Homo sapiens: one gene and its partner. The protein of the gene in region 2 interacts with the protein of the main gene of each other region in a pairwise test. Each region holds a gene or a part of one and is shown on either strand. Other genes may lie near its edges.

Region 1 (5,241 bases), on a different chromosome or scaffold from region 2:
TCAGAGTCGACGGAATGCTTATTAACTACACTGTGTCTACACGCGGAGGGTACAGCGGTGAACAAAACAGACAATGCCCCTGACTTCACAGGGCTTACATTCTACTTGGGGAGACAATGAAAACACTAAATATGTGATTAGCCATGTGCTGACAAGTGCTTTGGAGAAAAATATTGCAGGGTGAGGGGGCAGGGAGTGCGGGGGAGGCCTGGCTGATAAGGTGGCATTCCAGCCAAGACCTCGAGTCGTGAGGTTGCAGGCCACGGATCTGGAGAAGGAAGCCTCTCGACAGCAGAAACTGGAGGCGGCACAGGCCCCTTTTGTTTTATCTGTGCCTGCTTTGAAGAAGTGGATGTGCTCTTGGAAAATTCTGTGTGCTAATCAAATATTTGTAAATCAAATCATATTTTAAATGCATCAAAGAAACTTCCATTTAAAGTGACCCTGGAGTAAATGAGTCTGCAAAGTAAATAAAATGTTCTGATGTGAATAATTTATCTACCTTGTAAGTATAGATTTTCACATAACCATTGCTTGATTGTGTCTTTCTAAATTTAATTATTTATTTCTGAAGTGGGGCAGTTACAGACCGGTGCTGAGAGCTGGGGCTTTGCAGTTACAGAGCTGTGGTTTTGAAACCCAGACCTACCTCCTAAAGTGACCTGGGACAAATTATTTAACTCCTATGAGCCTCTCGTGTTGCTTTTGTACAATGAGGATAATAAGACAGCCATGTGCCACCATGTTGGTCAACGATAGACTATATACAGTGGTGGTCCCATAAGCTTACAATGGAGCTGAAAAAATTCCCGTCCCCTAGCGATGCCATAGTTGCACTGCAACATATTATTCATGTGTTTGTGGTGATAAGCCTACTGTGTGGCCAGTTGTCAAAAAGTCTAGTACATATAATTATATACAGTACATAATACTTGATAGTAAATGACTTTGTCACTGGCTAATGTATTTATTATACTATACTTTTATTATTATTTTAGAGAGTATTCCTTTTCCTTATTTAAAAAATTCACTGTCAAACAGCCTCAGGCAGGTCTGTCAGGAGGTATCCAGCAAAAGGCATTGCTCTCTAGGAGATGACAGTGCCACGTGTTACTGTCCCTGAAGACCCTGCAGTGGGGCAGGATGTAGAGGTGGAAGTCAGTGACATTGATGATCCTGACCCCGTGTAGGCCTAGGCTGATGTGTGTGTTTGCATTTTACTTTTTAGCGAAAAAAGGTTATAAAGTAAAAAATAAAAATAAAAAATTTTAAAAACAGAAAAAAGCTTATAGAATGAGGATATAAAGAAAATATTTTATATAGCTGTACAATGTTTGTGTTTTAAGCCAAGTGTCTTTTTAAGAGAATCAAAAAGGTTTTAAAAATTAAAATGTTTATAAAGTTTAAAAGTTTGCAGTAAGCTAACCTACTGAAGAAAATTTTTTAATAAATGTAGTGTAGCCTACGTGTACTATATTTATAAAGTGTGCAGTAGTGTACAGCAATGTGCTGGGCCTTCAGTCACTCACCACTCACTCGCCCAGAGCAACTTCCAGTCCTGTAGGCTCCATTCATCATGAGGGCTCTATACAGTATCATTTTTCTTACCTTTTATGCCATATTCTTAATGTACCTTTTCTATGTTTGTTTTTTTTTGTTTTTTTTTTTTTGAGACAGAGTCTTGCTTTGTCACCCAGGCTGGAGTGCAGTGGCGGCAATCTTGCCTCACTGCAACCTCTGCCTTCCAGGTTCGAGCAATTCTCCTGCCTCAGCCTTCCGAGTAGTTGGGACTACAGGTGCGTGCCACCATGCCCGGCTAATTTTTGTATTCTTACTAGAGACGGGGTTTCACCATATTGGCCAGGCTGGTCTCGAACTCCTGACCTCGCTGATCTGCCCGCCTTGGACTCCCAAAGTGCTGGGATTACAGTCACGAGCCACTGTGCCCAGCCTAGACATGTTTAGATACCCAAATACCATTGGATTACAGTTGCCTCCAGTATTCAGTGCAGTAACATTCTGTGCAGGTTTGCAGCAACAGGCTACACCCCACAGCCTATGTGTGGTAGGCTATCAGATCTAGTTTTGTGTAGGTACACTCTGTGATGCTCAAACTGTGATGAAATTGTCTAGCAATGCATTTCTCAGAACATATCCCCATCGTTAAGTGATGCAAGACTGTACTTACAAAGTTATTGTGAGGTAACCATTGTAAACCCTAGTACAGTCCCTGGCATGGAATGAGTGTGTCATGCTGTGATGTGGTATGACATGGCATGGCATAGTGTGGTGTGATATGGCATGGTATGGTATCACATGGTGTGGTAGGGTGTGGTATGACATGGTGTGTGTGGTGTGATGTGATGTAGTGTGGTATGGTATGATGTGGCATGGCATGGCGTGGTGTATGGCATGGTATGTGTGGTATGTATGGTATGGTGTAGAATGGTATAGTGTACTGCGATGTGATACAGTATCGTCTACCATAGGGTACTTGGGCAAGAGGGCTTTTTATAAACTTATATTTAAAAAACAGACACCAGGACCATACACTTGGGAACCTACACACAGGTACCTAAATGGTCACACAAACACAATCGGAGAAAGATGATGGGCAGAGACCACAGAGCCATTAATATGTGGCCCATGCTATTTGTGTTTTGCAGAAACATGGGCTGAGGCTTCATCTTCGAAACCCCTACTCCTTCACCCCCATGCTGGAAGAGGGTGCAGGCAGCAAGGTGCCCAGGTGCCTTCTGCTGGGCACAGACATGGCAGAAAACCAGAAGCAGATCGCCCAGTTCTCCCAGAAGGATGCCCAGGTAGGGAAGGCGACCAGTGACTGAGCTCCTGCTCCCTCAGCAGCCTAGAGATGGGCCTGGTTGGATTGTCCTAGAACAATTGTTCAAAGGCCATGGACACTGCGCCAGGCCACCCCACGTTCCTAGGAGGGCTCCAGTTGGTGGCAGCTCTTGATCTCAGGCACTGCGAAGAGAAGCGGGTGGAGGATGCTGATTAAGACCAGTGGACTGGGAGGCCTGCTCACCTGCGTGTGTTCAGTATGGGGCCACTGTCAGAGGGGCTGTGCCTGCTGAGTTCAAGAGGAAATGCACTGGCACGTTCTTACACTGGCGTGTGCTTCATGCCCCTCCAGCTTTCAGGCAGAGTTCCAGGTGTTTGTCCACATTAAAGCACATGAAAGCCAAAAAGGAGGATGAGGGAAGATCAGAGAAAATTAAGGATAAATAAACTGAATCAGGAACTTAGGACAGGAGAGTTCTAAATATTTATTCAGTGTGGCATCCCAAGGCTCCCTCCTGGCTGCCCAAGGCAACAAAGTGTCCATGATGGTGTGCAGGTCTGGTGACAGGATGAACACATGTCGGATGGAGAATGCACTTTTTTCCCTTGGAACTGCATTCTAGGAACCTGCTGGGTGGCCTTGTCTAGATGAGCCACTGAGTTCCGTAAGGGCCCTGCCACAGTTGGTTCTGTGGATATAGAAAGATTATTTGAATGGCCATTTTGTACCAAGCCTGGATATTAGCTGAGATGTAGCATTAAATCATATCTCAGTGGAGACATTTTTATAAGAAGAACCTAGGTTAATAGAACCCATGTACATTGCTTTTGTTGTGTTAATCTATTGCTGGGTAAAACTTAGAGAACCACAGACACACAGCCTACATGTCTCTTCCACCAGCAGTTTTCAAACCTGGCTGATGATCAGAATCACCTGAGGAGCTTAGCCTTTTATTTTGTTATTTTATTTTATTTGTTTTTGAGACAGGGTCTCACTCTGTTGCCCAGGCTAGAGTGCAGTGGTGCGATCTTGGCTCACTGTAACCTCTGCCTCCCGGGTTCAAGCAATCCTCCTGCCTCAGCCACCTGAGTAGCTGGGATTACAGGCATTCACCACCATGCCCGGCTATGTTATTTTTAATTTTTTTGTAGAGACAAAAGTCTCACTATGTTGCCCAGGCTGGTCTGGAACTCTTGAGCTCAAGCAATCCTCCCACCTCCACCTCCCAAGGTGCTAGGATTACAGGCATGAACCACCACACCCGGCCTGAGGAGCTTAGCTTTTTTAAAAGTGCTTCTTTGGTGGTTCTTTTGTGCAGCAGATTGGAGACCACCACCTGCATCCTCTCGTCCAAATCCTACCCATCTCAGAGGCACTTGAGGGGATTCTGCACAAGGCCAGGTCCCCGGGCCTGCAGGACACTAGCTGTGGCCCTACATGCCAGCGACCACACACGCTGGAGGCAAGTGCCCATTTCCCATCGTGGAAAGTGAGGAGCTTGATTTCTGGTTTTGTCTTTCCATGCTGTCATATTAAAGGCCTGCTTAGAGAAAGCTGTTTAACTTCATTTTTAATAAGACTTCTCGAATGTATTTTAACATGGAACTTTTCTTTATGTAACACTTATTAAAATGCCATGGGTATATCCATGGGTAGAGATGGACCAAAATTCAAAGTCCAGGGCTAAGAAGAGTCAGGTAGGGCCTCCAGTAGCACAGGCTTCTATCACTGCTCCTGTGCCCTCCAGGGAAAGGAGGGTGGGTGTCAGAAACCAGGCTTTCGAAAGTGGATTCTGACATGGGAGCTTGTGGGGTGAGAGGAGGCAGGCTTCTGTGACTGCAGGTGATGAGACGGCATGGGAGACGACCTACAGACCGGAAAAGAATACAGGCAAAGAGGTCTAACTTCTACCAATAATATAGGAAAGGACAGAAGGACAGGCCAGCGTGGCGGCTCACGCCTGTAATCCCAGCACTTTGAGAGGCCGAGGCAGGCGGATCACTTGAGGTCAGAAGTTCTTGACCAGCCTGGCCAACATGGTGAAACTCCGTCTCTACTAAAAATACAAAAATTAGCCGGGCGTGGTGGCAGGTGCCTATAATCCCAGCTACTCAGGAGGCTGAGGCAGGAGAATCACTTGAACCTGGGAGGCAGAGGTTGCAGTGAGCCGACATCGCACCACTGCCCTCCAGCCTGGGTCACAGAGCAAGACTCCATCTCAAAAAAAAAAAAAAAAAAAAAAAGAAGAAAGGACAGAAGGAAGAAACTTCTAAGTGGTTTCATGATTTATCGCAGAGACCACACCCTAGGATTGTTGCCAGTTTTCTGTGGGTGACACTTCGTGTTAGCCAGCATTAGCTCCTTGTCCCTGTCACCACTCCCAGTGATTCTCCTATTGCCCAGGGTCTCCTGACCACCACCACCCCACCCCATGCACT
Region 2 (4,157 bases):
TAGGTGCCCTGCTCCTTGTTGCGGGAAATGTGCTGCAGGATGGGCAAGAACGTCTCAAAGTCCAGCATCTTGACATTCATCTCTTCAGGCAGGCAGGGTAAAGAAAGAGAAATCAATGTGAGCAGGTGCTCAAGGGAGCAGAGGGTCAAGAGGGGGCCTCACCCCAAGTCTGACAGCACCCAGGGCTTGGGCTGCAGCCAATTCTGGGTGGTACACCCATTAGTGCTCCTAGAGGACACAGAGCTTCCCATCCAAGCAAGGTAGGGGACTGGGAGCTGGGGAGATGGTCTCAGGGGCCCTCTTTTCTCAGTGAAAGCAGTAGGATGGAAGGAAAAAGGAGCCCTCCACCCAGACCTCTAAGCACCAGGTGGCCAGCCAAGCGGAGGAGCTGAGGGTGGCAGCAGCAGGATGTGAGGGGTCTGAAGTGCCACGCGGCCCGGGCCTCACACTCAGTTTAGACCCTTGACGTGACAGACCTATAATCACAGGGGCAAACCAACAGGATTGAAAAAAGCAACGTTTGCATCACTCTGCATGGGGTCCCATCACTAGACCACACAGCTTGAAGCTACTCTGAATCAATAATTCTTATAAATTCACAGTTCTCTTGTGAATAGCATACTTCTCCCACATGGTAGTGTATTTAAAAGGCTTTAATTTAATAGAGGCAAACTATTTTTAAATATCACAAATGTGGGCATTTCTTTCTTTTATAAGCACACAGGACTTGCTTCTGACTTCTGAGATGCAAGCCCCTAGCCCTCTGGTCCTTTCCTGCCCACATCCTTCACCCCCGCGGTTACCTTCAGCCAGAGGAGAAGGGGGACGGGCCAGAACCAAGGGATGGGGAGGAAACCACTATGGGGCCCAGGAAGCCTCCAGAGACAGACCACCCTTGCTGAGAGGCTCACCCCACCCCAAACCCCGTGCCAACACCACTGAGGAGAAGCATGTGTGTGTGTTTTAGAGCAGCTGTTAACTTGACTGGCACACATGACAGACAACATTCACAAACAGGACACACTCCCTCACACCTCTTCTCATCTGCCGTAATGATTGACAGAGGCACAGCTCACATGAGTATGAACACTCAATGATCACACTTAGGAGCCACAAAAGAATCGTTTGCACCACTTTCTAAACACTTACTCACCATTCTAAACACTCACTCACCAAAACCTATTGAAATGCAAATGAATGAAAGAGGCAGCACGTAGAGCTAAGAATCTTGAAGCTGCTCTAATTTATACCAAACAATTTGCAAACGTCAGTACTCTAACCATTATTAGAAACAAATTGTTTGTAATACAGCTCGCGATGGCCACCACAGGATACCTCGGTGCTGTGACAGATGCCCCTCCTGAGAGCTCCTGGGCTGGGGAGTGGGAACCATCAGTTATCAGATTTCCAGATTCCCACTCAGCCTTCCTCAGACACTGAGGCAACAGAATGTGGCTCATGCCCCACAGGAGCTCCCAACCTCGTGAGGGAAACAAGCCCAGGCTACATTCCTCAAGGGTCACTTAAGTACGGGGACGTCTAGATAAATTCTCAAAATGGGACTAGGGTAAGCTGGGTAGGTGAGGCTGGTCCTGAGGGGCTAAAGCAGGAGAAGAGAGAGTGCAGATGGCAGAGAAGATCTGGACAAGGAGGAAGCCAAGGGGCTGCAAGCCTGACCCTGGGAGAGGTCTGCCATGCAGCCGCACTGACCTTCAGGCTTGGGCTTGCCCAGCACACGCAGCACCTCGGCATTGGTAGGGTTCTGGCCCAGGGCCCGCAGTACATCCCCGCACTGGCCGTAGGTGATCTTCATCTCTCCAGTCGGGGTCCGGTCAAACAATGAAAAGGCCTCTTTGAACTCTGTGGAGAGAAGACCCAGCTATACCTTCCAATCCCCAGTGAAGGTGGTGGCTGGTGGCCAATCAGCCTCCACCCAAGCTGAATAGCAGGTGAGTGTGGTTGTTAAAATATCCCAATATTTCGCTTTGTCCATTATCCCAGGCCGTCCCTCGAACCCGTCCTCATCCCATCTTCTGTCAACCAAAGAAGCAGCCTGGTGCCTCCACGACCCATTCCAGGGCTGGGACTGGGATCTCTTCTATTGCTTCGTTGTTATAAAATTCCAGTGTTGGGAGGCTGCGGCCCGAGAATCGCTTGAGCTCGGGAGGCAGAGGTTGCAGTCAGCCAAGATCGCACCACTGCACTCCAGCCTGGGTGACAGAGTGAAACTCCATCTTGAAACAAAAAAAAAATTCAGATGTCTCCCTGGCCTCCACCCCTCCCACCCACACATCCCGCTCTGGTGTAGGTGAGGTTCCTGACTCCTGAAATGACAGACAAGTGAAAACAGCACTGGCCCAGAAGTGAGGATTCCTAAATTCTCATCTTGGCTCTGCCTCAGAGTGCAGGATAAGCTGGGCTGGGTCTCAGCTTCATGTGCACACAAAGGGAGTGACAACTACACCCCACTCCCTGGGCCTGTCACTGTGAGAGCAAAGGGAGGTCGCAGTGTGTGGAAGCACTTTACAAAGTGATAAGACCGCTGGAAAGTCAGCTGTTATCAGTACTGCCTGTTCCAGGCTGAAAGGCGGCCCCCAGGCCAGATAAGGCAATGGTCAGACCACCCCAGCTCTGCCATGGACTCGCATACAGCCTTGGGCAAACTATTAACCCCTGTGGGCCCTCATTTTCCTAGCTCTAAGTGGAGATACAATGATCACTTGAGTGGGTTGCAGGTGGGATCACAAAGCACGCCAAGCAATGTTCAGCATATGGTAAGGGAATCGACAAATTGTGGTTACAGCTGTTTCCTAGTTCTCTTTCCTACTTACCAGCTCAGAACCACAGGGACTGGACTCCTTGAAGGCAGCAGGGCAAGTATCCCTGCAGCAAGACCAAAGGAAGGCACTCCTGGTCCCTTTTTCAAAGAACCTTAACTCTTCATTGATTTGTTTTGGTTTTGTTTTTGTTTTTGTTTGAGACAGAGTCTCGCTCTGTCACCCAGGCTGGAGTACAGTGGTGTGATCTCAGTTCACTGCAACCTCCGCCTCCCAGATTCAAGCAATTCCTGTGCCTCAGCCTCCGAGTAGCTGGGACTACAGGCGCCCACCACCACGACACCTGGCTAATTTTTGTATTTTAGCAGAGACAGGGTTTCACCATGTTGGCCAGGCTGGTCTCAAATTCCTGGCCTCAAGTGATCCATCTGCCTTGGCCTCCCTAGTGCTGGGATGACAGGTGTGAGCCATCATACCCGGGCCCAATTCTTCATTGATTGGGATTCAACCAATTCATTAGTGGAGGTAATTTGGCCTGGGAGGGGCATTTAAGTTACCTTATGCTACCCACAAAGAAGTGCTTTACTAAGCAGATGAACAGTATAAGCCAAAAAAGAATTCATGAACTACTTAGGAAAAAAAGCCAGTTTTCATCCTTTCCAAGTACTTCTTTCCTTCGAGGCTGCGTATGGATTATTTACAAATCATTCCACATATCACAGAAGATTCCCCAGACCTTTACTTCCAACTCTTTCTTCGGCTTTATATGAATTTAAAAGACATAAAACCACATTTCTTTCACATTACTGAATAATCGAGTTCAAATTTCATTCCCATTGCTTGACTTTGGACAAATAAATATTTAACCTCTAAAAACCTCTTCTATAAATGGTACCTACATCATAGGTTTCTTTTTAGTTAGTTTTTTGTTTTTTTTTTTTTTTTGAGATGGAGTTTCACTCTTGTTGCCCAGGCTGGAGTGCAATGTCGCGATTTCGGCTCACTGCAACCTCCGCCTCCCGGTTCAAGCGATTCTCCTGCCTCAGCCTCCTGAGTAGCTAGGATTACAGGCATTACAGGCATGCGCCACCACGCCAGGCTAATTATGTATTTTTAGTAGAGACGGGGTTTCTCCATGTTGGTCAGGCTGGTCTCGAACTCCCAACCTCAGGTGATCAGCCCACGTCGGCCTCCCAAAGTGCTGGGATTACAGGTGTGAGTCACTCCACCCAGCTATCATAGGTTTCTTAAATTACATTCAAATTAATATAATAATGTATGTAAATATACTAGGTATATAAATACAATAATGTATGTAAAAATTTTTAACACAATGACCAGCACATAGTAAATGCATAAACAATGCTGCTAGTATTATCT

The links.
Region 1: the proteins of MYL4 (region 2) and PYROXD2 interact in a two-hybrid assay, tested with the Homo sapiens proteins (one large-scale study listed by BioGRID and IntAct).

The regions. Positions count from the first base shown.
Region 1 is NC_000010.11:98,397,683-98,402,923, reverse strand, and holds part of PYROXD2 (pyridine nucleotide-disulfide oxidoreductase domain-containing protein 2), read left to right. Parts: exon of another isoform or gene 1-505; intron 506-2,666; coding exon 2,667-2,822; intron 2,823-5,241. UniProt on the Homo sapiens protein: Probable oxidoreductase that may play a role as regulator of mitochondrial function.
Region 2 is NC_000017.11:47,217,607-47,221,763, reverse strand, and holds part of MYL4 (myosin light chain 4), read right to left. Parts: intron 1,861-4,157; coding exon 1,711-1,860; intron 83-1,710; coding exon 1-82. UniProt on the Homo sapiens protein: Regulatory light chain of myosin. Does not bind calcium.